Linked DNA regions of Homo sapiens: regions 1, 3 and 4 are each reported to be linked to region 2. Evidence: microRNA targets listed by miRTarBase, many of them from high-throughput screens and not tested one by one. Region 2 holds a microRNA gene; each other region holds the end of a gene's coding sequence.

What was found. Region 2 holds the annotated microRNA hsa-miR-4765 (UGAGUGAUUGAUAGCUAUGUUC, at 1,932-1,953, opposite strand). A microRNA usually pairs through its seed, bases 2 to 8, with sites in the 3' UTR of a target mRNA and lowers its output. Matches are read on the target gene's strand: a 7mer-m8 pairs with bases 2 to 8, a 7mer-A1 pairs with bases 2 to 7 and ends in A, and an 8mer does both.
Region 1: miRTarBase lists NPAT as a target of hsa-miR-4765. Seed matches in the 3' UTR shown: 7mer-m8 at 5,651-5,657.
Region 3: miRTarBase lists PEBP1 as a target of hsa-miR-4765. Seed matches in the 3' UTR shown: 7mer-A1 at 5,892-5,898 and 7mer-A1 at 5,615-5,621.
Region 4: the mRNA of GTPBP2 is a reported target of hsa-miR-4765. Seed matches in the 3' UTR shown: 7mer-A1 at 5,608-5,614.

The regions. Positions count from the first base shown.
Region 1 is chr11:108,152,661-108,159,783 of GRCh38, forward strand. It overlaps NPAT (nuclear protein, coactivator of histone transcription), which reads right to left. Exons shown (of 18, transcript NM_002519.3): 18 at 4,555-6,359. The coding sequence ends at 6,282. Among named protein-coding and RNA genes, the nearest start is that of ACAT1, 35 kb to the left of the region's middle.
Region 2 is chr2:32,630,130-32,637,252 of GRCh38, reverse strand. It overlaps MIR4765 (microRNA 4765), which reads right to left and starts at 1,998; the gene lies at 1,922-1,998. It overlaps TTC27 (tetratricopeptide repeat domain 27), which reads right to left. Exons shown (of 20, transcript NM_017735.5): 2 at 6,553-6,730; 3 at 3,248-3,377.
Region 3 is chr12:118,143,754-118,150,876 of GRCh38, reverse strand. It overlaps PEBP1 (phosphatidylethanolamine binding protein 1), which reads right to left. Exons shown (of 4, transcript NM_002567.4): 4 at 5,293-6,291. The coding sequence ends at 6,074. TAOK3 (TAO kinase 3) reads left to right here. Exons shown (of 21, transcript NM_016281.4): 21 at 1-1,076. Among named protein-coding and RNA genes, the nearest start is that of PEBP1, 11 kb to the right of the region's middle.
Region 4 is chr6:43,615,403-43,622,525 of GRCh38, forward strand. It overlaps GTPBP2 (GTP binding protein 2), which reads right to left. Exons shown (of 12, transcript NM_019096.5): 11 at 6,601-6,765; 12 at 5,092-6,388. The coding sequence ends at 6,212. It overlaps POLH (DNA polymerase eta), which reads left to right. Exons shown (of 11, transcript NM_006502.3): 11 at 1-5,121. Among named protein-coding and RNA genes, the nearest start is that of GTPBP2, 10 kb to the right of the region's middle.

The sequences.
Region 1 (7,123 bases), not on the chromosome of region 2:
TTTAGGAGAAAAAAAAATGGAAAACTGCTTAAGCAAAAGGCTCCAGGCCTAGATAATTTAGTAGTGATTTAGTCTCAAGGAACAGTTATTTCTCATTCTAAATAAACTGTTGCAGAAAAAAGAAATAAAAAACAGCATCAGCTATAATAGCAACTAGTTCTTAAAGTGCTTATTATGTTCCAGGCATTAATCTAAGTGCTTTTACATATATTGTACAATTTAAACTTCACACTTTAGCACTGGTACTATTTATTATCCCCAATATTCAAATAAACTAGAAAAAGAAGGAAAGGTTTAAAATTCATTTTAAAAACTGGCATAAGTTTGAAACCAATCTCATTAAAAGTAAACTTTTCATTGGGTGTGTTGGTGTGCACTTGTAGTCCCAGCTACTCATGAAGTTGAGGCAGGAGGATCCTTTGAGCCCAGTAGTTCAAGGCTATAGTGGGCTATGACTGTGCCCATGAACAGCCACTGCACTCTAGCCTGGGCAATATAGCAAGACCTTGTCTCAAAAACAAAAACCAAAAACATTTAAATAAAATATTCACAAAGCAAACTTACTTAAAATAATCACTAATATAAAAAGAAATTCATGAGTTCAATGAAAATATTTTAATTGATGCTTAAACGTGGCAATTAAGTTGAACAGGTACTTCTGATGTAAAATCGTAAAACTCTACCAACAAAAGCAAACATTATACTTAATAAAAGCAAACATTATACCTAACATTGCCATTAAAATGGGGAACAAGACAATGAAGCAGACTTTGATCATTATTAGTTGCACTGGAAGTGCTAATATCAGTGTAGTAAAAATAAATAAAATTGGAAAATAATTATTTACAGATAATACTTCACAAATTAAAAAGTAGCACTGGTAAATCCATTAGTACTAACAGACTTCACTCAGTATAGAAAATAAATAGAACTAAAATATAAAAGATTTTGGGACTGGCACAGTGGCTCACGCCTGTAATCCCAGCACCTCGGGAGGCTGAGGTGGGTGAATCACCTGAGGTCAGGAGTTCAAGACCAGCCTGGACAATATGGTGAAACCCTGTCTCTACTAAAAATACAAAAATTAACTGGGTGTGGTGGCGCACAACTGTAATCCCAGCTACTGAGGAGGCTCAGGAAGGAGAATTGCTTGAACCTGGGAGGCGGAGGTTACAGTCACCAGAGATGACACCAATGCCCTCTGGCCTGGGCGACAGAGTGAGACTATCTCAAAAAAAAAAAAAAAAAGATTTTCAACATTAATTAAGACAGTGTGTTATTAGCACATCTTAAAGAAAGCAGACCAATGGAACAGCATAGAGTCCAGAAACAAACCTACACATTTACCAGCTTATGAGAAAAGTAACTGTGCAATGTAGTTGGGAAAGGATAATCTTTGGTAATAAATAGTGTGGGTTAATTGTATATCAATGTGGAAAATCAATTCCAGATAGATGGTCAAATCAAAATGAAATAGGTTGAACCATAACGCTTTCAGAAGAATAACAAGGGAGAATACTCAGACACCTAACATCCATCCGAAAAAGGACCTGTATCCAGAATACAGAAAGAACACGTAAAAATCAGTAAGAAAAAGGCAGACACCCAATACTAAAATGGGCAAAAACCTTGGACTGTCCACAAAAGATAACCCAAATAGTATTTGAAAAGGTTTTCAACTTCATTAAAAAAAAAACAAAACCCAAAAAACCAACACCAAATTAAAACCAAAACATATACCAATACACACCACTAAAATGGCTAAATGAAAATATCTAACATCAGAAATAACACAGAGTATCGAGAACTTATTATACTGTTGAGTGCAGCATAAGTTGTTACAACCATTCTGGAAAATGAAAAAATCTGAATGTCTGAATATATGCAACTGTGTTCCAGCAACCCTATTCCTAAGTATTTATCCAACTGAGAAGTGTAATGCATTCATAAAAAAATGTGCAAGAATGTTCACAGCACAGTCTGTTCACAATAAGCACCTTTTACCATCTATAAAATGGATTAACTGTAATATAATACAATGAATATATACACAGCATTGAGCATGACTGAGCTGAATTATACAAAACGAGTGTTTCTCACAGATTATATACTCCATGTATCCACTGATATCGTTAAGGAAAACAAAGCTAAATCTCTGGTGCCAGAAGTCACAATAATGACTACTCTAGGGTACTGGTAATGTTCAAAGTGATTATGTGGATGTATTTACTTAAAGAAAATTCACTGAAGGGCATGAATTTATAGTGGTGCACTTTTCTCTTTATGTGTCTCCATAAAAATTTTATATTAATAAAGCAAGACCATCCCTACATAACAGCAATAACCAGTTAAAACTATGAAATGAAGAGCTTTCTAAAAATAGTAACAAACAAAAACATCCAGTTTAGCAAGAAATTTCTGATAGGGATAACTATAACACTTTGATACATACCATATGATCGTTACCCTTTGCTTCTTTATGAATTAGCTTATGACATTAATGTAGTTCAAATATTCCAATAGAAATTTAACCTGAAATAATTCAAGTGATTCTAAAGTTCACCAGGAAGCATAAAAGGGTGAATACTTGAAAAAACAAAAACAGTAACAGTGGACACAAAAGTTATAATGATTTAATCAGTGGCACAGAATAGACGATACACATACCATATAGTGTGTATATATGTGTGTACATTTAATACAAGTCCAAAATCTTTGATCATACACACCTTTGGGGTTAGCTGGGGTTCATAAATCAGAATATTTTGGATTTCTAAAAAATAACTCAAATGTATGCACCATATGCCCCCCAGTTGAGTCTGGAACAGCAGACTAATCAACATTACTATAAATGAGATAAAGACTGTTAAGTAGCCTCGTGTCATTTCAGGTCAGGTTTGCCACAGAATGAGTTCTGATGTTAAATCTAGGGGAAAAAAATTGGTTGCCGGAACCTTTTGGGTTTTAGAATTGTGAATAAGAGATTGTTAATCAGTGTAGGATAAGACAGACATCTTAAATAAATGAGCAGGGGAAAGGAAAGCTTATCTGAACAAACTGTGCAGTGGTTAAATTGTCAAGTGAACAAATTGTCAAGCAGTTAAATATTTAGGGAAAAAATGTACATTGACCCTTTTTTCATATCAGGTACCAAAACAAGTAACAAATGGATTAGGAGCTAACTCCTAATTTTACCAAATCAGGAAACACAAACCTAGAAACAGGTGATGATATAGGTGAATATGCCTCTGGAAATGGATAAGCATATGCTATGCAAAAAAATGACAATTTGCTGGTAGAAATGTAAATTGACGCAAGTTTAATAGCAGCATATGGCAAAATGTACTGAGATCCTTAAAAAAAGGTACACTAACTTCTTGATTTGGTAATTCTACTCTCTAAAATTTCTAAGGAAATAGTTAACATAAACAAATGTTTATAAAAATGCTCACTGCTGTTTTTGTTTGTAATAGCTAAAAAAAGGAAAAAGCTTTATATTATTGGAAGTAAAAGCAGCAGCTGGATGAGGTGGCTCACATGCCTGTAATCCCAACACCTGGGAGGCCGAGGCAGGAGGACTGCTTGAGTCCAAGAGTTTGATATCATCCTGGGCAACATAGTGAGACCCCATCTCTCTGAAAGACAAAAACAAAAAACAAAAAACAAAAAAACCAAAAAAACCCAAAAAACTGGGTGCGATGGGATATGTCTGTGGTCCCAGCTACTCGGGAGGCTGAGGTAGGAGGATCACTTGAGCCTGGGAGATCGAGGCTGCAGTGAGCCATGATTGTGCCACTGTACTTCAGCCTGCAACAGAGTGAGACCCTCTCTCAAAAAAAAAAAAAAAAAACAAAACAAAAAGCATTAGGAAGCTATATGTACCATGTGTTCAACAATGTAGATACAAATTTACGAAAAAAAGACAAAAGTATGACAAAATGATAACATTTATAAAAAGAAAAAAGTACACAATGAGTCCATTGCTTAAAGGAAGCAGCAAAATAACTAATAATAAAGTCAAAACTTATGTAATTTCAGAAAGCTGGGCCTGAGCCTAAAAGATGATGACCAGAGAAAGGATGAATGCAGAATATATAGTAATATGCTTTTGAAATTACTCCTAATAGTCATGACATGTAGCCTTTGCATGAATGCTGATGGATGCTTTTCTTATGCGCAATTTCAACACACTATAGTTCTAATATATCCAGGGCTAAATCTGTAACAAGATTTTACTTAACAACACTTCTCAGATTTGGCATACACTGACTGCATTAACCTCTAAGTAATATCCAAACAACAGACTGGATCCTCATATGTAATTATAAAAACAGCCATGGATTGTTGTAGTATACATCAACCCTGAAATGCAGTCACTGGGCATTTAAGTATTCAAATAGGTTACCAGGTACAATAGTATAATTAAGTTCAGGACCTGTGGACTTTTAAGGTAAAATGGGGATATGATTTTGCTCTTGAACATAAAAGCTCCAAGTACAAGTTATCTTTCAACTTTACTTAGCAGTTCCTGGTTAGTTAACTATGAATCTTGAAGAAAGTAAACTTATTTTATTTGTATATGAATTTTCAGTGCTTAGTACATACAACTATGAATTGAATAAGAAGAAAACTGTGATTTTCAGCATTGTACAAACTCCCAAAAAGAACTGACTTGCAAAGGAATTTAATCAGTTTCTAAACAAGACTGCCAATGTAAAGTAATTCAAACTTTTGAAGTTAATGAAAATATTTATTCAAACCTAACTGTAGTACAGTCTCAAGCTGAGTTAAATAAACATTAACTATATGATATTTAGTTCCTTAGGAATAGACCACTGCCACACCATACAAATTTCTTACATCACAAGTTTTTGCAGTAAGGTTCAGCAATTAAGAAGACATGATTTCTACACTGAGAAATGTTGTGTTAAAGTTGGATGGATTTATTTTTTTAAAGGCCCAGTACAAAAAAATGGTTGAGGAAAGTGACTCTTCAACAAAATATACACCTGTAGAAAAAAATCCCTAATATACTGATATTTAATTGAACGGAAAGTACTAAAGAGAACATACTTTAATATCTAGGCACAATTGGTCAGGTACTAATTATAATTTCTGTTCTCATTTAAAAGTTTAAACCAATTCTTCAACTGGACTGATGTGTGTGAGTCTAATACAGAGAAGGCACCTCTCTCATCTCTCACTCTCCTTAAGGACCTTTTGAGAGAAACTCTTTGTAACACTTTAAGGGACACAGACAATGCACTATATCTAAGTATAGATATAGTTATTTAACATACCCATTGTAGGAGAAACTAAAATATAAAACTATGATTTCTCTTTTTACATCTTATGATGGACACAACACCAGAAGATAATCCTCCACATAAACTCTCACATAGAACACAAGATTTAAATTATATGTGCATTGGTCACTACAATGTAAAGAGTTCTATGAATTAGTGCAATTCTTTAAATCCCCAGCATTTAGGGGAAAAGTACATACCGAGAAATCTCTACTACAAACCAAAATTTTATGGCTCAATAGTCTAACCACTTAAAGTTCTGTAAAAAATCTTAAGTTATAAATGAAAGATCAGAACATTCAATAAATGGTTTACAAAATTCTCTCTTTAAAACAAAGAGAACAGAGTGATCAGAGTAGGTAAAGTGTGAAATTCCAGAAATATAATACTTACAGCAATTATAAGAAAGGGGTAGTATTCACTCTAGGAAAAAAACTCATCAAACTGTTGATTTCTAATTAGATATTTTGCTATCAGTTGAGGTGGTTATTATTTTGTAGTACTTAGTGATTGTGTATTTAAATGTCTTATTGAATAGTTACTGAAGGTAATTTATAAGAATAAGCATCATTTTCCTCCAAAACAAGTGAGAAACTATTCCAGATGAGTAAGTCTCAGAATTAGGGATCATAAGAAGTCAAAAAACACAGTGTAAGAACATTAGGTTGATTTAACCTCTATTTCAACAAGATTTACACAGTATTTACAATATGGAATTGTCAAAGCTATACAGTTTTGCAGATTGGCTTTACTTACATTTCTGCAAACGTTTTTCCCAAAATAAAAATATACCAAGTAAGTCTATTTACAAACTAGGAAGCTGTTTCAGAAACAGCATGATTTAGATATAAAGTGAAGTTTCAGTACAATGAAAGTGCAGGTCATGCTTTCAGATTCTGTCAATATCCCATTCCCTACACTCAGTTTAAGGGATATGAGTTTTTAACACCTACTGTTCTTATGTGTCCAGAATGTTTACTCATCATAATGCAATGATAACAAAAATTTGTCTACATCCATTCCTGCTGGAAATGAACTGGGAAGCTTCTTTTTCTGTTGAAAAAGAGAAAGAAAAAATAAACTCAAAACAAGGCCAAAATGCTTTCTTAGTAAGTCACCTAAAACAGTATATTGGGTTCTTTCACATACTACTAAAATTGTCAAACTTTTTTAGTCTATTAGAATTTTACTTCTATAGAGAAGTAGAGACAAGTTTTATAAACCCAAAGTTACTTAAATATACTTCAATGGCACCTGAATGTTAGTTTATGGCAAAAGACATGATACAAATCCAGAGTGTCTGAATGTTGAATGAGACAAGATAGAACATGCTTTCTATGTTAGGTGGTTATTACTGCTTAGAAAGCTTTACTAACAGATGTTTAGGGTTACAGGTACTTATCAGTTCCAAAACTTAATATACACTAGATACTTTATGTATACTACATTTAGACTTCACAACCTAAGATACCTGGTAATATCATGTCAAGTGATGAGGCTGAGACTCAGAAAGGCTACAGACTTAACCATGATCACAGGACCAATAAGCAGTAGATGCAGGATTCAAACCCAGACTTGTAGGGCAACAAAGCCTAAATTATTTCCCTGATACCATACTTCCTCTATGATATTTTAAGCACTTTCTTTCTATTCAATCCACTTACTAAACAGCTAACCAAATCGAAAATAAATGGATTTCATTTATCAATGCTATCCCTGCACTGCCTTCCTAGAGACAACCATGCTTAAATAAAAAACATAAGGCCAGGCGCAGTGGCTCATGCTTGTAATCCCAGCACTTTGGGAGGCCAAGGTGC
Region 2 (7,123 bases):
TCTTCTACATGAATCCCTAAATATAAAGAACAAACAAGTAATTTAACATAGCAACAAATAAAAATTATACAGGGAGACAGCACATGGTATACTATCTGGAGAGCATTACCTGTGACACTCAAGCTAGGTTGTGAGTACAAAGGAGATTTATTATTTAAATTGTATACATTTCATATGCTCTTTTAAGTGTTGGCAGTAGTTCCAATAAAAAAGTTAAAATCAAAGACTTAGTCAAAGTTTCCTACAACTCCAAATGACCTCCATCAAGTGATTTTTCACTGCTAAAAGAGGCAAGTTCAAAGCATCCTTTTCCCACAAACACTATGCTGTCCTCTCCTCTAAATTCCTGCTCATATGACTGCACCTAGAATGGATATTTTCCTCTTCTCTATCCATTTTCTAACCATCCTTCAGGTTCTAGCTCAAGGTCCACTTCCAACTAAAAGGTCTTCTTTGACAAAATCCAGCTTCCACAAATCTCTTTGTTAATGGCAATATTTCTTATGGTCTGAACTTCTCATGAAACTCATTTCCATATTGTTTTGATTTGCTACCTGAATTTACAGGTGCTTCTACACTAGTATAGAAGAGTACTGGATTTGGAACCAGAAAATGTGGATTCCAATGCCCCAGCTACAGATCTCTGACAAGATTCTTTTACCACTCTGAGCTTCAGTCTTTTCACCTATAGATTACCTCAAATCTGTAAGGACCAAATTGGCACAAGAAATGTGAATTAAGGCCAGGCGCAGTGGCTCACACCATAATCCTAACACTTTGGGAGGCCGAGGCGGGTGGATCACCTGAGGTCAGGAGTTTGAGACCACCCTGGCCAACATGGTGAAACCCCGTCTCTACTAAAAATACAAAAATTAGCCGGGCGTGGTGGTGAGCACCTGTAGTCCCAGCTGCTTGGGAGGCTGAGGTGGGAGAATCATTTGAACCCGGGAGGCAGAGACTGCAGTGAGCCGAGATCGCACCACTGCACTCCAGCCTGGGCGACAGAGTGAGACTCCGTCTCAAAACAAAAAAAAAGAAATGCGAATTAAGTACCATTCAAACCACACATCAGTGTTCAGGAGATATTTATGGCTTTGGCTGTTTGGTGGATTTCTAATCTATACTATAGGGCCATAGAAGCCAGAAACTGATTCATACATAATAAGAGAGGGAATGAGATGTTTCCTAAGTACATTTCTAGATAACTGAAGCTTATCTCTTTAACTGCTACAATCATTTAGGGTTTGGGGTTTTTTTACTCCCATTTTGGATGAAAACCTCTGTAGAATATAAATTATAAATTCCCTTCATAGACATAAGACACAAAACATCTTTTAACCTTTCAGTTATAATTAGGATCAGCATTATGGATTAAAATTACTCTAATGAAGTATATATAGTGACTCACTAAGCTGATATGCAAAGAGTTAATTATTGTGGTTTTCACTTTATGCTTGTTTTTGCACTTCTTCTCTTTCTACCCCCCCATCAAATTATTAACACATATCTCTAATAACTCTATTCCACATTTACTTGCTACACCCAATTCTTTTTCTTTTTTCTTTTTTTGAAATGGAGTCTCACTCTGTCACCCAGGCTGGAGTGCAGTGGCGTGATCTTGGCTCACTGCAACCTCCGCCTCCCGGGTTCAAGCAATTGTCCTGCCTCAGCCTCCTGAGTAGCTGGGATTACAAGCGTGCACCACCACACCCGGCTAATTTTTGTATTTTTAGTAAGACGGAGTTTCACCATGTTGATCAGGCTGGTCTTGAACTCCTGACCTCGTGAACCGCCCGCCTTGGCCTTCCAAAGTGCTGGGATTACAGGCATGAGCCACTGTGCCCGGCCTACTTGCTACACCTAATTCTGAGAAACCAGGTAACACTAGGTCTGTTTTGCTGCACGAGTTCTGGATACAATTTGGTGATTTTGAACATAGCTATCAATCACTCAGCTTTTTCCAGGCTGAGTGGTGGATAGCTACGTTCAAAATCACCAAAGTGGCTGGATAAATCAAAGTTCTTACTTTGATTTAAACCATACTTCTTTTGTAGATCATCTCATACTAGCCAGACCCTCTATATAGGAGCTCAAGATTCCTGAGGAACTCAAACTGCAAGCTCTATTGGCGACACACTGGCACAGATCGATAATATTATCTTCACAATGGATAATAATCACCATGAAGCAATGCTGTGCCAGAAACTTTAATAAAGTATTTGTAATTTAAAGCCACCCCTGGGAGCAAACCACTCCTGGGAGCCATTCTTAAGTACAGTATCAAAACTTACCTGCAAGCCGGGAATGGTGGCTCACGCCTGTAAACCCAGCACTTTGGGAGGCTGAGGTGGGAGGATCACTTAAGGTCAGGAGTTTGGGACCAGCCTGGCCAACATGGAGAAACCCCACATCTAGTAAAAATACAAAAATTAGCCAAGTGTGGTAGCACACGCCTGTAATCCCAGCTACTAGGGAGGCTGAAGCAGAAGAATTGCTTGAACCCATGGGGCAGAGGTTGCAGTGAGCTGAGATCGCGCCATTGTACTCCAGCCTGGGTGACAGAGCAAGACTCTGTCTCAAAAAAAATTAATTAATTAATTAGTTAAAAACTTACCTGAAATAAAATTAAACAGATTTCCAGATTTGCTGCTTTGCCATTAAAGATCTTTATGTACAGCGCTCACACCTATAATCCTAGCACTTTGGGAGGCTGAGGCAGGCAGACCACTTGAGCCCAGGAGTTTCAGACCAGCCTGGGCAACATGGCAAAACTCCATCTCTACAAAAAAATTAGCTGGACATGTTGGCATGCAACTGTAGTCCCAACTACTTGGGAGGCTGAGGTGGGAAGATCGCCTGAGCCTGAGTAGGTTGAGGGTGCAGTGAGCTGTAATCCAGCCACTGTACAACAGCCTGGATGACTGAGTGAGATACCATCTCAAAAAAAAAAAATCTTTATGTAACTGAGGTGATACAACCAACTAAACAACTGGTGCAGCTGTCTGTACTTTCATTAAAAAACACAGCTAACACAGCTCCATAAAATGGAGTGTGTATGAAGAGGAGTTTGACAAAGGAACTTCTGGAAATCTGTGAAAATCTGATCAATGAACAAGCATTCTTAGTACTTTTGTGCAAACCATAAAGTCATGTTTCTTTCCTACTATGAGTTCCAGTTTATAAAGACCTGCTTATAAAAAATAAATAACATAATAATAATTACATACAACATTTTCAAGAAGCATACCTCACTGAATTGCTGGAACAAAACAGATGACAAAAAGTCCTGAGGGTGTAAGTCAACAGGGGGCCCCGTCCAGTTGCTCTGAACAAAAAGTTGCAAACTGCTCACACCAAGTAGAAATATCAACTGTTGTCTGCATATAAGAATGGTTAAAGAAATAAATATGAACTACTATCACTGTATAATCTCAAACACACTATTCCATTTCAGTTTTATTAAGAAAATAATATCTATCAACATTTATTGAGACTATCCTAGAGTATTACCAAAAAAAAAAATTTCTAAAACTTAAAACAATTTAGGTTAGCTAGGCACAGTGGTTCATGCCTGTAATTCCAGCACTTTGGAAGGCCACGGTAGGAGGATCATTTGAACCCAGGAGTTCAAAACCAGCCTGAGAAACATAGTGAGACCCTGTCTCTACAAAAAAATTAAAAGTTAGCCGGCATGGTGGTACATCCCAGCTACTCAAGAGGCTGATGCATGAGGATTGCTTGCAGCCCAGGAGTTTGAGGCTGTAGTAAGCTTTGATCATAGCACTGTACTCCAGCCTAGATGATAAAGCGAGACCCTGTCTCTCTTAAAAAAAAAAGAAATTAGGTCTACAATATCCAATATTATAGCCACGAGCCAAACATGGTTTAAATTTGCATTAGTTAAAATTAATAAAATTTATAATTCAGTTCCTTAGTCATACTTTCCATATTTCAAGTGCTCAATAGTTAAGTGTGGCTAGTGGCTACCATGTGGGCAATGAAGATAGAGAGCACTTCTATCTCCACGGAAAATTATCTTGAACGGTGTTGATTTAGGTTCTGATCAGACATCTATAAGTTTTTCTTGCACTCCCTTTAACAGCTCTGATGTTGCAAGATGTATAGAAAACTGACTTTATACAAAAGAAAAGTGATGATATAAAGTTGTTGCTAATTGTTTACCAATCCCATACCACCAAATGCTAGAACAACAACAACAACAAAACATATAGATATTTTAGTGAAAACTCTATTTTTCAGTCTTGCTGTGATGTGAGACAGGGATAGGCAAACTTTTTCTAAATATGAAATATTTTAGGCTTTGCATATCATGTTTGTTTTTTTCCAACCCTTTAAAAATGTAAAACCCATTAATTCTTAGCCACTTAGTTAGCCTGCCAGCCATAATGTGCCAAACCCTAAATTAGGATCTAAATAGGTACAGATCCAACTCTAGCAAATAACAGCCAGGGAATCCTGGAGTTTCATTCTGAAGAGAAAGTATTAGTAATCACTTTTTTCCCCACAGCCCCTAGGCCCTTCCTTAAAAGGAAGAGTCTTTCAGAAAAAGAAAAAAAAAAATCAAACATACAAGCCTATGGTAGCAAAAATATAAAACTCTGGATGCAATGCAAATAAGCAGCATTAGAGAAAAAAGATAACAAAAGAGCTGGTATGCAATCAGAAGTTTGGAAATTTGGAGAAAACAGCCTTAATAAACTGTCCTAATCAAAAAACAAAATCCATAAGGTGAACTGAAAATACACTTTAACTTTCAAATGTCTGAAAATGAGTCAACTGAAATGTCTCTTTTTAGCTTTATGTGACAAGATAGAAATCTGGTATATCAGTGAATAATGCATTTGTGTGAATGTGTTGTTTTAATGGGTGCCACAAGGCTAGTTGCTATGAGAGTGCACACATATAAGAAAGCAATGAGAATCCAGCCGGGCGGAGTGACTCATGCCTATAATCCCCACACTTAGTGAGGCAGAGGTGAGGATTGCTTGAGCCCAGGAGTTCGAGACCAGCCTGAGCAACATATCAAGACACCATCTCTACAAAAAGGAACTAAAAAAAAAAAAAAAAAAGAATGATACCAAAGGAACATAACTACCAGTAAACTAAAAAAAATTAAATGGAGGCTGGGCGAAGTGGCTCACGTCTGTAATCCCAGCACTTTGGGAGGCCGAGGTGGGCAGATCACCTGAGGTCAGCAGTTCAAGACCAGCCTGGCCAACATGGTGAAACCCCATCTCTACTAAACATACAAAAAAAATGAGCCAGGTGTGGCACAGGCCTGTAATCCCAGCTACATGGGAACCTGAGGGAAGAGAATCACTTGAACTTGGGAGGCGGAGGTTGCAGTGAGCCGAGATCACGCCTCTGCACTCCAGCCTGGGCAACAGAGTGATACTCCATCAAAAAAAAAAAAGAAAAAAGAAAATGAATAATATTAATTTTCAAAATAAAATTAAAAGCCTGTAGTAGCATTCTTTTGCAAACTCCTTATGAATATGGGTTATGCTTTATTCATCCTCAGAACCTCCACATCTACTACAATAGTTTATTTGTTGAAGGACTAAATGAAGCTATTTCCTAGAAATAATGGTAAAATAAAATTGCATGCATTTATAAGATAATTAAAGCTTGACATGGTTGCCACAGATAGTAGACGAAAGATAGAGGTATCAAATTTATAACAATGAAATATAAGCCACTGAAAAGCTTAGGTTTCCCTGCTGTGTAACTATCTGCTATACTTAACCCTATAAAATTACACAAACTTTAATGGAAGAAGGTAAACCAAGGGCTTCCTTACAAAAACATTAAGTTCTCTGAGCTCTATAAAGATAATAATCTAAAACATAATAAATAGTTACAAATTAGCACTCAGCTATGCAGAAATAACAAGATTGAAAGTATGTTTTTTGTTTTTTGGTTTTTTTTTGAGACAGAGTCTCGCTCTGTCGCCCAGGCTAGAGTGCAATGGCGGGATATTGGCTCACTACAACCTCCACCTCCCAGGTTCAAGCGATTCTTCGGCCTCAGCCTCCCTAGCAGCTGGGATTACAGGCGCATGCCACCATGCCCAGCTAATTTTTGTATTTTTGTATAGACGGGGTTTCACCATGTTTGCCAGGCTGGTCTTAAACTCCTGACCTCATGTGATCCGCCCGCCTCGGCCTCCGAAAGCACTGGGACTACAGGCGTGAAGCACTGCACCCAGCCTGAAAGTATGTTTTTAAGTTAAAGGAAATAAGGTCTGAAGTTTTGCCGGTGGGTAAAGCCGACCAGACCTAAGCATTTGCAGTTAACACCAAAATATGTGCCAGTCTCATATATGAAACCATTTTATCCTGCACCACTTTACTTCTTCATTCTGGATGGACTTCTGGATGAGTTTTTACATAGATTACTTGGTACACCATGAGTCTTGAGTAAAATATAAGGCAAGGTTTCTCAACTGCTAAAATCAGGGCCTTACCCTGTCAAGGTGCTATTAAATGTATTTGCTCTGTTCCTCTATGAAAATTTCAAATAAAATTCTACCTTTCCGTTGTGTCCAAATCTGTTGAGTAATCCAGGAATGTTACTACCTGCTTCTCCAGGTAGCTATCAATCTTTTCTTCAGCGGTTGTTGTTGAATTAAAAATATTTTGAGTCATTGAATTTAAGAATATGGCTTCATAGTTCCCTTCCAGTAGCAATTGTAGGAAAGATCCACTCTCTGTAATATAAAAAATTAGTGCGGTAATCCAAAAAAAATTATTTTTCATACCGTAAAGGATAACACTATTAGGTAAATCTACCATTTTAGTGTGCAAAAACAATCTATAGACTTAGAATGATTACTGTATGTCAGTCACAAGGCACTCAGTAAATTTCCATCATTCTACAAACATTCTCTCTCCTAGAATTAGCAGCTCACTCATACTGACTATGAGCCCCAAAGTGGAAGTCAGCCCCAGAAATAATATTCCTCATTAATAGGTATTTAGTCTTTTGCTGGGAAATTCACAAAGATTCCTACTGACAATACAAAAGTTTCCTTAGTCAAGGTTCTAAAACTTTTCACAATCTGGTTCTTTCTACCTCCATTATTTTCTCTTCTTGAAAAGTC
Region 3 (7,123 bases), not on the chromosome of region 2:
CTCTTACTGACATCGTGTCGGACTAGTGCCTGTTTATTCTTACTCCATCAGGGGCCCCCTTCCTCCCCCCGTGTCAACTTTCAGTGCTGGCCAAAACCTGGCCGTCTCTTCTATTCACAGTACACGTCACAGTATTGATGTGATTCAAAATGTTTCAGTGAAAACTTTGGAGACAGTTTTAACAAAACCAATAAACCAACAACAAAAAAAGTGGATGTATATTGCTTTAAGCAATCACTCATTACCACCAATCTGTGAAAGTAAAGCAAAAAATAATAATAATAAATGCCAAGGGGGAGAGAGACACAATATCCGCAGCCTTACACCTTAACTAGCTGCTGCATTATTTTATTTTATTTTATTTTTTTGGTATTTATTCATCAGGAATAAAAAAAACAAAGTTTTATTAAAGATTGAAAATTTGATACATTTTACAGAAACTAATTGTGATGTACATATCAGTGGTGACATATTATTACTTTTTTGGGGACGGGGGGTGGGTGGGGTGAAGAGATCTTGTGATTTTTAAGAACCTGCTGGCAAGAGTTTAACTTGTCTTCAGCATATTCTGATTGTATCATAATCATTTTCTGCTGTTGCAGAGGATGTGAATACACTTAAGGAGCTCACAGAATCCCAGTAGCACAAATTGGGCTTTGGCAAATCGTGTATTTTGTGTATAGAAGGAATTTAAGGAGAGGTATTACTTATTTTCATATTGTATTTTAACTGTTTCTCTGATCAAATTTTTTTACTTCCTCCTCCTGTTCCTCCCCACCTCCCTCCTTTTCCAGTTCAGTATTTGGAGTTCAACACTGTCTCTCAATCAGATCATCTTGATCTTTTTCTTTATCTCCCTTCCCCTTCCTAAGTCCCATTTCTTGGTCATAAATATTGCATTATTCACACTTTCAAACTGTGTATTTTCTTACAATAAAAAATGATGAAAAAAAAAAAGGCTTTACTTCTTTTGCATGCACTTTAAAAACAAAACAAAACATTTTTCAGGTTCCAAGGAAGAGCATGATAACTGTCAGAGCTTTTAATTATATTTGTAAATAAAAGTGTTCATCACATCGCCTTGCTGTGTTATTGTAGCAGGAAGTTTCCCTTCTAGGTTCACCAGTTCACAACTCAGAGGGACAGCCACCCTCCTGAAACTGTTCTCCATAGCCTCGGTCGCTCCAAGAAGAGCCATTCAAGCCTTTCAGGTAAAGCTCTGTCTTCCAAGTTCTTCTATGGGGCTGAAGATAGTGTTGCACCATTCGATGTGGGCACGTGGTCAACTGCACCTTTCTGTCCTAAAGAATAGAAGGCATGTGCGCGCGCACGCGCGCACACACACACACACACACACAAAACCCCCCACGTGCCAGTCGTGCATAGAAGCATGCATTGCTGAAGAGAGAAATTGGGCACCCTTAAAGAAAAGCAGGCTGTGGAGAAGGCACTATAACCAAATATTTGAAATGACCCCACTGTAATATTAGATCCCTCTCCCCTCATATTCTGCTTTTATTAGAATAATTTTACATGTAAAACAATGAGATAGTAAAAAATATAAAATTTCAGGGATATGATTTGGGAGTCAGGACAATCTCAGTAAGATCCCAAATGCTTAAGCCTCTATCAATCAGGCTTGTCCAACCCACCTTATTTTGTTGTTACTCTGTTTTGTTTTGTTCTAGGCTTTTGGCAGCCTGAAGCTATGGTTTTTGGTTTCTGTGTCTAGTGATAAATGGAAAAGGGGGACGAGGAAGGGGCTTTACTGGCCCAACCAGAAACAGAAACTAAGAACCCATGACTTGTGTTCTCTCCCTTGGACACTCCTGGAAATTGCTCTTTAGAGTATGATGACGTGGGGTGGGCCCAGCACTTTGGAAGGCTGAGGTGGGTGGATCACCTGAGGTCAGGAATTCAAGACCAGCCTGGCCAACATGGTGAAACCCCATCTCTACTAAAAATACAAAAATTAGCTGGGTGTGGTGGCGGGCACCTGTAATCCCACCTACTCGGGAGGCTGAGGCAGGAGAATCGCTTGAACGTGGGAGGCGGAGGTTGCAGTGAGCCAAGATGGCACCACTGCACTCCAGCCTGGGCAACAACAGTGAAACTCTGTTTCAAAAGAAAAGAATATGATGACCTAAAGATCACTCTTGTTTCCTACAGGATGTTCATGTATCGGAGACAAATGTGACCAGTCATGTTCACTCTGATAGGCTAAAGCAGAAAGGTATACTCATAAATAATTATCAACATGGGTTAATCCCAACTACAAAACCTTCTGTAACATCACACTCAGTGATAATTGTGTTTCCTAAGTACCTCTGTTCATTGGAGTTTCTATATTAGGTACATCTGAAAATAATACTGGAAAGGGTTAGAGAAACAGATAACGTCGATGGCGTGCTTACGCTTGCCACATGATGGAACACTAGGCTTTCACAAATGAAGAAATAAGCTCACTCCAGTGGCAGGGTGGGGTCTGAATCGAGACCTGTCTGATCTATACCCAAAGGAGTATTCCACCTTCAGTAGGGTAGAAAAGCTTCCTGTAGCCTCTTTCATCCATTTCTCACTGTGGTGAGAAATGTCTAGCTAGTTTGGGAAAGGGCCCTATGTCTGAGATTGTAGGTGCTATCTTTAGAAAAGGTCTCGGTGGCTCACAGCTGTAATCCCAGCACTTTGGGAGATCGAGGTGGGTGGATCATCTGAGGTCAGGAGTTTGAGATCAGCCTGGCCAACATGGTGAAACCCCGTCTCTACTAAAAATACAAAAATCAGCCGGGCGTGGTGGTGGGCGCCTATAATCCCAGCTACTCGGGAGGCTGAGGCAGGAGAATCGCTTGAACCCGGGAGGCGGAGACTGCAGTGAGCCAAGATGGCACCACTGCACTCCAGCCTGAGCAACAGAATGAGACTCGGTCTCAAAAAAAAGTCCCACTGCGCAAGTTTGTCAAGGATGTGTCCCAGGGCAGTTACCCGGAAGCAGGGATGTGGGTCCCTGCTCCTAACAAACACCTGCTATGGACAGAGTTGTCCTACTCCTCCTAGTACCTGCCTGAGGAGGCAGTAAGGAAGGCAGGGGGACTAGGAAGGCTGAGGCAGGAGAATCGCTTGAACCCAGGAGGCGGAGGCTGCAGTGAGGAAACAGACCTGAGGAAACTGGACTTTTGTACTTTGTTCTTATATGACAATCAGGCCAAGTTTAGTCATTTACATACATTAACTCTTAATCCCAAAAAAGATGATTTTGTCCTCCAACAACGCTGTGAGGTAAATAAGGCAGGCTGACAACCCCCTGCAACCCTGATGTTTTTTCAAATGAGGAAGCTGGAATTTGTGACCCAGTGGGCCCGGTGGTTATCAGCTGGACCTTGAGGCCAGAGTTGAGTTCAGAATGGGGGTCACCCCCTTCCTAGCCGCCCTTGGGGAAGTTCACATCACATACCAGTTGAAGGCATCACCCTTCTTTCTTAGATGACTACTGCCTTCTCATATATATGTATTTTTTTTTCTCTTTAGTTCCGTGTTAGTATTAATATGTTTTTCTTTTTCTATTTTTTTTTTAGATGGAGTGTCGCTCTGTCACCCAGGTTGGAGTGCAGTGGCGTGATGTTGGCTCACTGCATCCTCCACCTCCCAGGTTTAAGCAGTTCTTCTGCCTCCACCTCCCAAGTAGCTGGAATTACTGCAGCCTTGACCTCCTGACCTCAAGTGATCCTCCCACCTCAGCCTCCCTAGTAGCTGGGACTACAGGAACGAGTCCACACATCGGGCTAATTTTTGCATTTTTTTAGAGAGAGAGGGGTTTTGCCATGTTGCCCAGGCTGGTGATCTGCCCCACCTTGGCCTCACAAAGTGCTGGGATTACAGGTGTGAGTCTCCATGCCCAGACTTTACATTTATTTCCAAGGTCAACAGGACAGTTTTTTTTTTTTTCGAGACAGAGTTTCGCTCTTGTCACCCAGGCTTAAGTGCAATGGCGCGATCACAGCTCACTGCAACCTCGCCTCCCAGGCTCAAGCGATTCTCCTGCCTTAGCCTCCCTAGTAGCTGGGATTACAAGCGCCCGCCACCATGTCCAGCTAATTTTTGTATTTTTAGTAGGGATGGTGTTTTACCATGTTGGCCAGGCTGGTCTTGAACTCCTGACCTCAGTTCATCCACCCACCTCGGCCTCTCAAAGTGCTGGGATTACAGGCGTGAGCCACGGCGCCCAGCTGACAGTTGTTTTCTTTGTAACTTGTGTTCAACAAAATCTTATTACGTAAAAAAACGAATTTTAGAACTCTAAAGTAAAAAAAAAAAAAAAAAAAAAAAAACTTCCAGGCTTGGCATGGTGGCTCATGCCTGTAATCCCAGCACTTTGGGAGGCCAAAGTGGTCAGGAGGTCAGGAGTTTGAGAGCCGCCTGGCCAACATGGCAAAACCCCTTTTCTACTAAAAATACAAAATTAGCTGGGCATAGTGGTGCATGCCTGTAATCCCAGCTACTCAGGAGGCTGAGGCAAGAGAATCACTTGAACCCACCCAGGAGGTGGAGGTTGCGGTGAGCCGAGATTATTCCACTGCGTTCCAGCCTGGGTGACAGGGTGAGACTCCATCTCAAAAAAATTAAAAAAAGAAAAAAAGAAAACTTACATCTACCTTATGTGCTTCCAGCAAGGCAACATTTCCAAGTTTTTTCAGAGAAAAAAGTACTGCAGTGAAAGATGGGGAAGGGCTAGTCATTAGCACCTGTCAGGCCTGATTCAGGACCCCCCCCTTTGCATCGCAGAGACCAAATCACAGTGATTTGCACCTTCAAACACCTCCTTTCCTTTCTTTCGGTACATCAGATGGCATGAGACCGTGACCTTCTCACCCTCCTACCCTGCGCACCTCTTTGGTACTGAGCCTCTGTGGATAACACATCAGAACGGGAAGTGCAGGCTACTTCTTAGGCATTGTTACGGTGTCCGCGCCAGACTTCACCAAGGGGGAAGGTTTTCAGCCATCTTCTTTAGAACATCCTTCTTGGGTCAAAAGGACCACTTGAAGCAAAGGTGCTTTTTGGGCAATAAGACTCGGCCTCACATTTTATGATTTTTTTTTTAGAAACCTCAAATCTGAACTGTTTGCTCCTGCTGTGGGTTAATGGCACATGTAGAGGCACAGACCCTCCATATGGCCCCTAGAACAAGTCCCAGCTGTTACTTGCTGGTCACGGAGACGACTCACCCTGAGACTTGACTTCTCACACTTATGAAACCTATACCCAATAGAACAAAACATCCGGGGACTCAGTTCCTTCATTCAGGTTTCTATTTTTATTCAACTACAAGCAAACAGCACAATTAATGCAACATTCAGCAACTCCAGACCAGCTTTTCTTACCCCCATGAAGAACGATCAATTTAAAAAACACAGATCTCAGGTTTCCTCCCAAGCTGTCAGCGAGCGCTGCTACCGGTCTAGATTGCCATGTCCCAACAACAGCAAAGCCACCCTCCCTCCTGCTTCTTCCAGGATTGCTCTTTAAAGGGACCAGAGTGACATACTGATGCCTACTGAGGCATCTGAGATGCACTGTGTTGGAGGTTAGCCTCAATGCCAGCCTCTGGTTGTCTAGGTGAGTGACATCACCATAAAATCACATTGTGTACCATTCTGGACTCAGGATCACAAAGGCAGAGGCAACCAATCTTTTTTTTTTTTTTTTTTTTTAAACCTCCCTTAAAGATTCTTTGATGCTTTGCTCTATCACTGTAGACCTGGTCTTTTTCCCCCCAGTTTTTTCTTTTTTACATTCTGGGTTGCTATTTTCAGATTAATAATTTGATGACCCCATCACAGTACCAAAATACCCCCCAAAATGAAGTTCAAATTTGATCAAAACATAAATCAGAGTGAGTGAGTAAAATTATAAAGGCCAGGCAGCAGGAAAAGTCACCCTCAACTACCATCTGACTGGTCAGGTCTCACCCATGCCAAGGGGGGCAGGAAGAGGAGAAATCTATTATACATGCAACACTGAACTGGGGAACATGGCTTGGGGCCTCCAGGACAGTTCAGGTCCCCAAGCTAACCCCCTACTTCCCAGACAGCTGCTCGTACAGTTTGGGCACATAGTCATCCCACTCGGCCTGGTAACACGTGCCAGCCACCGGGGCCCTGAGCTCATACTTTTTACGGAAGGACGCCACCTTGAATTTGCCACGGTGGTCTCCAGATCGGTTGCTGAGGATGGGCTCGTCACACTTTAGCGGCCTGTCCTGCTCGTAAACCAGCCAGACATAGCGGTGGAGGCCTGTGGGGAGAGGCAGAGGGAAGATGTACACACAGCCCAGCACTTGAGATGGGGACATCATCCATTTTTATCGAATGTTTCAACATGGAGGCACCCAGACCACACCATTTACAAGGAGGACACCGAGGGTCCAGACAGGTATTTGGTGCAAATTAACATTTAATGGCAATTAACACATTAATGGCAAAAACCGCAATTACTTTTGCATCAACCTAATAGAATGTGTTAGGCCCCTGCTGTAACTGGTGTCAAGCCCAAGCCCTTAGTTCCAGCCTCTCCTGGCCTGTGGGATCTGGCCTCTGCACCCCCTTATCCTCGCCTCCCAACGAGCCTCTGTGCTCTTCATTCATCCCACTTCAGGCTCCCGGACCTTCTCAAGTCACCACCCACCACCCCCCATCAGAACACCCATTTCACTTCTGTCAGGTAGGAGCAACCAATTAAGGACAAAGCAAATCAATGACCCGGGCCCACCATACCACAGTCGAGCCTCTAGGATAAAGGAGAACATTTTCTTTCTACCTCCAAAATTTACTTGCTTAGAAAACTGGAGGACTACTTCGAAGTGACCCAACCTCACTTTAACTAAGCAGCTTTCTACAAGCTTCAATGATGTACTGGATGCAAATAGGTACCATGAGCTCTTATTTTTTTAAAAAGTGGGTTTTTTTTTTTTTTTTGAGACGGAGTCTCACTCTGTTGCCTAGGCGTGGAGTGCAGTGGCATGATCTCGGCTCACTACAACCTCAGCCTCCTGGGTTCAAGCAATTCTCCTGCCTCAGCCTCCTGAGTAGCTAGGATTACAGGTACGTGCCACCACGCCCAGTTATGT
Region 4 (7,123 bases), not on the chromosome of region 2:
AAATTATCCAGGCGTGGTGGTGCACGCCTGTAATCCCAGCTACTCAGGAGGCTAAGGCAGGAGAATCACTTGAACCCAGGAGGCAGAGGTTGGAGTGAGCTGAGATCGCGCCACCGCACTCCAGCCTGGGCAACAGAGCGAGACTCCATCTCAAACAAAAACAAGAACAAAAACAAACATAAAGTTGGCACAGAAAAGGGACCAAGTTTAAAAAAGGGTTTTAAATGTAATGAGACTTGCATAGTTAAAAAAAAAAAAGGGATTATTTTTATTTTTATTTTTTATTTTTGAGACGGAGTCTCCCTCTGTCGTCAGGCTAGAATGCAGTGGTGCGTTCTCAGCTCACCGCAACCTCCGTCTCCTGGGTTCAAGCAATTCTCCTGCCTCAGCCTCCCAAGTAGCTGGGACTACAGGCACGTGCTACCACACTCAGCTAATTTTTGTATTTTTAATAGAGATGAGGTTTCACCATGTTGGCCAGGATGGTCTCGATTGCTTGACCTCATGATCCGCCTGCCTCGACCTCCCAAAGTTGCTGGGATTACAGATGTTAGCCACCGATCCTGGCCCCCCCAAAAAAAGGATTTTAAGAAAAACTTCTCTTGGCCGGGCGCAGTGGCTCACGCCTGCAATCCCAGCACTTTGGGAGGCCGAGGCGGGCGGATCACAAGGTCAGGAGATCGAGACCACGGTGAAACCCCGTCTCTACTAAAAAATACAAAAAAAAATTAGCCGGGTGCGGTGGCAGGCGCCTGTAGTCCCAGCTACTCGGGAGGCTGAGGCAGGAGAATGGTGTGAACCCGGGAGGCGGAGCTTGCAGTGAGCCGAGAGCGCGCCACTGCACTCCAGCCTGGGTGACAGAGCGAGACTCCGTCTCAAAAAAAAAAAAAAAAGAAAAACTTCTCTTTAGGCTGGGTGCGGTTCCTCATGCCTATAATCCCAGCATTTAGGGAGGCTGAGGTGAGTGGATTGCAGGAGCTCAGGAGTTCGAGACCAGCCTGGGCAAGGTGGCAAAACCCCGTCTCTACTAAAAAAAATTAGCTGGGCTTGGTGGCAGGCGCCTGTAATCCCAGGTACTCGGGAGACTGAGGCAGGAGAATTGCTTGAACCTGGAAGGTGGAGGTTGCAGTGAGTTGAGATCACACCAATGCACTCCAGCCAGGGTGAGAGTGAGAGACTGTCTCAAAAAAAAAAAAAACAAAAGAAAAACTTCTCTCTAGCTCTGTGACGGGCAGTTCAGATAATACCTTCACCAGATTTACCTGTTTTCAGCTGAAGAATGTGAGATGAAGCCTTGAAACCCTAAAAGTGATATGGTAACTAGGGCAGGTCTTTCTGTACATAAAAGTGACTTAATAAACAGTGAATTTCATACAGGTAAACCCTATTATACCCTCAGTTCTAACCATTGGCCTATCTCTTGCGTTTTGTTCTAATGTAGAATTAGATTGCTACTTGACTAGTTCAGGAACTCTGTTTAGATCTGATAAGTCATAATCAAATCTTGCCAGGCGTGGTGGTTTATGCCTGTTATCCCAGCACTTTGGGAGGCCAAGGCAGGTGGACCACGTGAAGTCAGGAGTTCAAGACAAGCATGGCCAACATGGCGAAACCCTGTATCTACTAAAAATACAAAAATTAGCCGGGCATGGTGGTGGGTGCGTGTAATCCCAGCTAGTTGGGAGGCTGAGGCAGGAGAATCACTTGAACCTGGGAGGCAGAGGTTGCAGTGAGCCGAGATTTCCACTGCATTCCAGCCTGGGCGATAGAGTAACTCTGTCTCAAAAAAACCCACTAGATCATCTCTAGAACATTGCTACTCCCAAGTATGATTTGAGGAACAGCAGCCTCAGTATCACCAGGGAACTTATTAGAAATAGTCTCAGCCTCACCACTATTCCCACTTAATTGTAATCTGATATTAACAAGATTTCCCAATGTGGGTCAGGTGTGGTGGCTCATGCCTGTAATCCCACACTTTGGGAGGCCAAGGTGGGCGGATCACTTGAGGCTGGGAGTTTGAGACCAGGCTGGCCAACATGGGGAAAACCCATCTCTACAAAAAATAACAAAAATTAGGTGTGTGTGGTGACGCATGCGTGTAATCCCAGCTACTTAGGAGGCTGAGGCAGGAGAATCACTTGAATCTGGGAGGCAGAGGTTGTAGTGAGCTGAGATTGTGCCACTGCACTCCAGTCTGGGCAACAGAGTGACACTGTTTAAAAAAAAAAAAATTCCCAATGTGGGCCGGGTGCAGTGGCTCATGCCTGTAATCCCAGCACTTTGGGAGGCTGAGGTGGGTGTATCACGAGGTCAAGAGATCAAGGCCATCCTGGCCAACATGGTGAAACCCCGTCTCTACTGAAAATACAACTGGGCGTGGTGGTGCACGCCTGTAGTCCCAGCTACTTGGGAGGCTGAGGCAGAAGAATTGCTTGACCTGGGAGGCGGAGCTTGCAGTGAGCCCAGATCGTGCCACTGCACTGCACCCTGGCGACACAGCAAGACTGTCTCAAAAAAAAAAAAATTCCCAATGTGTATCTTAAAGTTTGAGAAATGCTGATCTAAAAGATACTAATGACCAGGTGTGTAGAGGACATTTTCTTAAGCCCTTAAGTACAAATTTAAGAGGTAAGTGCTTCAGCCATTAGGGTTACTGGCTTGTTCATCTTTCCCACTGAGTGTAAATATTTAGCTTAGGGTTTAAAATTTGTTATGTAGCTTTTTGCACTTGTCCATGTTTATACTACTGTATTATTATTATTTTTTTTTGAGATGGAGTCTCGCTGTGTAGCCAGGCTGGAGTGCAGTGGTGCAATCTTGGCTCACTGCAACCTCCGTCTCTCGGGTTCAAGCAATTCTCCTGCCTCAGCTTCCCGAATAGCTGAGACTACAAGCGTGCACCACCATGCCCAGCTAATTTTTGTATTTTTAGTAGAGACAGGTTTTCACCATGTTGGCCAGGCTGGTCTCTATCTAGACCTCGTGATCCATCCGCCTCGGCCTCCCAAAGTGCTGGGATTATAGGCATGAGCCACCACGCCCAGCCTATAGTACTGTATTCTTATTCTCCACTCTTGTGTGTGAAAAGTCAGCTCTTTTGGCTTTTCTGTTATGGGGAAACTTGAATTACACAGGGAACCCAACTGAAGAAAATGAACTGAAGTAGGTGGCGCTGGGTGAAGTGGGCCCAGAGAATGGTGTACACATCCCTCCCATACATATACCCAAACTTCTATTTTTTTATGTGACGGAGTTTCTCTCATCGCCCCGGCTGGAATGCAATGGCACGATCTCGGCTCACTGCAACCTCCGCCTCCCGGGTTCAAGCGATTCTCCTGCATCAGCCTCCTGAGTAGCTGGGATTATAGGCATGCACCATCACGCCTGGCTAATTTTTGTATTTTTAGTAGAGATGGGGTTTCGCCACGTTGGCCAGGCTGGTCTTGAACTCTTGATCTCAAGTGATCCACCCGCCCTGGCCTCCCAAAGTGCTGGGATTACAGGCCTGAGCCACCAGGCCAGCCCCAACTTCTACTTTTTATTTTATTTATAAATTGGGGGGGGGGTTCTATATTTAGTTTGAAGAGGTGGGGAAGATTTGAAAACCACTAGATTTACCAGGAAATTTTTTTCTTCAAAAATATTTTCTGCTTTTATGATACTTGAATATCTAATAAAAGACAATATTTAGCCAGTCACGGTGGCTGATGCTTGTAATCCTAACACTTTGGGAGGCTGAGGTGGGTGGACTACTGGAGCCCTGGAGTTCAAAACCGGCCTAAGCCACATGGCAAAACAGTCTTTACAAAAAATACAAAGATGGTGGCTTATGCCTGTAGTCGTACCTACTCAGGAGGCTGAGGTTGGGAGGATCACCTGAATCTGGGAGTTTGGGGCTGCAATAAGCCATGATTGTGCCGCTGCACTCCAGCCTGGGTGACAGTCTGAGACCCTGTCTCAAAAAAAAAAAAAAAAAAAAAAAAAAAAAAGACTACATTCACTGTATACGTGGCCTTTTCCCCCTAACTAGCTATGTAGCTTCTTAAAGGCAAAGATTCTTCATAGTGCTTTGCACATGATAGGTGCTGATACTCATTGGATGAATGTATATAGTGAAGAATTTTAGATCTGATTACCACAATTGGGATCATAAACATGTATAAACTCCTTGGGAGTCTGCCTTATATACTTTTTATCCCCCTAAATGTTCCATTAATGTTGCAGAGAGGCTCACTAGTTCCTGGAGATGTCTTATTAAGTACTGAAATGTGATTTTCCAAAATTTTCTTTACAATACAGGCAAAAGATAAGTAAATTGTGGACAAAGCTTTCATCTCTATCAGCAGCTATAGAGAGGAAGTAAACAGCTTAGCCCCTAATACAGGAGGAAGTTGTTCAACTACAGGCTTGTTAGTAGCAAGTTAAACCAGTTACATTTTATAAAACAGCCTGAGTGGTAGGGAAGCTATCACTTTAATACTCTAGAGGCAGAATGCCACATAGGACTTTGGGTCACATATTTCTTTTCCAGGGTCTCCTCAAAATGCAGTTTCTATTTACAGTTGACTTTGGCCCCTATTTACCCATAAAATGTCAAAATCAAGTAGTATGAACATGGAAACAGGAGCAGGGACTAAGGTTTGGTCAAGTGGCCCTCATTGTTCCAAGAGTAATTTAGGCTATGTAAACTTGAAAAATATGGGACCAGATTACCTTTTGTCTCTAAATTCTACTCTTCTTTAAGTAGCTGGCACTGTATCTCTGCCAGGGCACAGAAGTGGGCTCCTTACTATTCTGACCACTAGCAAGTGGCCAACTCTTCAAATACAGGGTAGCTACCTATTTCACGTGAAAGGCCTCAGTATTCTGCTCACTTGAACTACGGAAAATAGGCCACAATACTTGGTTACAATACTGGAACTCTGAACCTATGTGGAGGAGAGAAAAACAATGGTGAACGAGATACCAGCTGGGCTCTTTCCACATTCAGGGCTCAGCAGTGTTGGGGTTTCACTTGTCTCTAATCCTGAAGAGGTATCTAGCCCTGGAAGGAAGCTGAGCCTGTAGCTAACGCATAAGCACAGTGTATTCAATAAAACATTTTTATTCTGTACAATATATATGTGTATTTAAATATATATACATATGTATATATATATATATGCACAGAGAAACCTTAGCCAACAAATCCCTGAGTCCATGGGAACCCAGGACACTAACAAAGGGAAAGGAGAGTCCATGCCTAAAGAGTAGGAAATATGGCAACATCTTTCCCTTTCCTCCTGGTTCCCTGCAACAGAGGGAAGGGAACAGTCACTACAAATTACTAAAACGAGGGTTTAGGTGGGGCAGGAAAGTGGGGTGAGAGTGGTAGGATGGGGAACTCAGATGCCACCAGTCTGGGAAAGTAAAACATTTGATCCAGCATGAAAGCCAACATGACCGCAGAGGAAAAAGACCAGACTGATGGGCATGCAGCTGGCCTTTGGTATATGCCAAGCCTTTGCTTGGTAGCCCCACGCCTGGGCCAGCACAACAAATAGCACCTGTGGGGCCTATAAGCCGGGAGGGGATGGGGGAGATAGGGACTGGGGAAATGGCCCTTGAGTGAAGGAAAGGGAGATAAAGCTGAGGAAGAGGCCTCAGGCCTCAGCACAGGGTGGCAACACTACCATTCACTGTCCCTGTGCCATTTCTTCAGACTCTGGGCCGCCACCACCACCAGATGGCCAAGAGCAGATAACCTTTTGTCCACAGCCAGGTAGAGATGGGCAACTTACATGGCCTTGAGAAGAGGTATAGAAAAAGGAGTGCTTTTGAGGGCTACCCCCTGTTGTGACCATTCCTGAAGTGCAGAGACCACACCAGCAAAACATGCCCAGTCTTAGTAGTGGGGACGAAGAATTGATGAGTGGATCCAGTCAGCTCCGGCAGACAGGCCACAGGGTTGCCAGGTTTGATGAGCCAACCAGGTGAGCACACAGCTTCGGAGCACTGCCCTGAATCCTGTCTTCTCCCTCAGGACTGCCCTTTCCTGGCCACACCAAGTTTGGCACCTCTCCAGAAAGTTGGCAGGGAGCAAGTGGCAGACAGCACCCCTCTCTCCCTAGCCTATTAACACACAGAGCCGCCAATGGCAGGGCAGCATGGCCAGAAGTCACCTTATATATTGTAGGGACAGCAATAGAACTGTCCCTGCCTGAAGGGTTCAGAAGCCCATGTTGGCCTGGGCTTCTCCTGCTGTAATGGCTTGTACATCAGTGACATGGCCGATGCCCTTGGTGACACCCTCCCGGAACAGCAGTTTGGCGCCCACCTTCAGGTACTCTGGGTGTTTCAGGAAGCGGAAACGTACCACTGCCTTCTCGCCTGTCCGCAGTTTGTCCTGCAGCAAATAAGTGGTCACTCCCCTGGCCAGTGCCTTCTGTCCCATTCTCTGCCAGCCGTGGCTCTCCACCCTCCAGAGGCCTATCAGGCCGCTACCCACCCTAAGTGGGGTTTTATTCCCATTGTGGGATCAAGGAGTTCTCTGCCAGTCTGGGGCAGGCCTCCCTCTTTTCTGACCTCTGGAGAAATGGAAGGCCAGGTCCCTCTCACCTTGGCATGGATCTTTTCCACCACTGCCGTCTGACGTACGTTGCCCACGTGTACTGTCACCTGGAATCCTCGTCGGAAGGTGGTGGCATGGAACAGTAAGACTATCTCTGCCTCAAACACCGAGCAGATGGTAGGATTCATCTCCGGGCTCACCATCACCATGCCCTGGGGAGGAACAGACCCCAGGCCCAGGAAGGGCAGCTCTAACATCAGACTCTCCCTCCCCAGCCACCCCACACCCTTTATAGCTCCTGAATTTCCTCTTCCTCTACACAACTCTAAACACAAAGACCTCAAAAGACAATAATCAAAACTCTCAGAGGGAATGAGTCTTTACCCACCTCCTACGTCCTCTAGCCCATCTAACGCTTCACATTTTTAGGGTCCTGAACACTAAAAATAGTGTTCATTAAAAACAGTGTAACATAGTGATTCATATTTAGTTATCTGTACCTCATGAGTACGTTAAGCTGTTTTTATAGTCTACGTAGCTAGACCAGAAGCTTCTTGGGTCAGAGAGTGT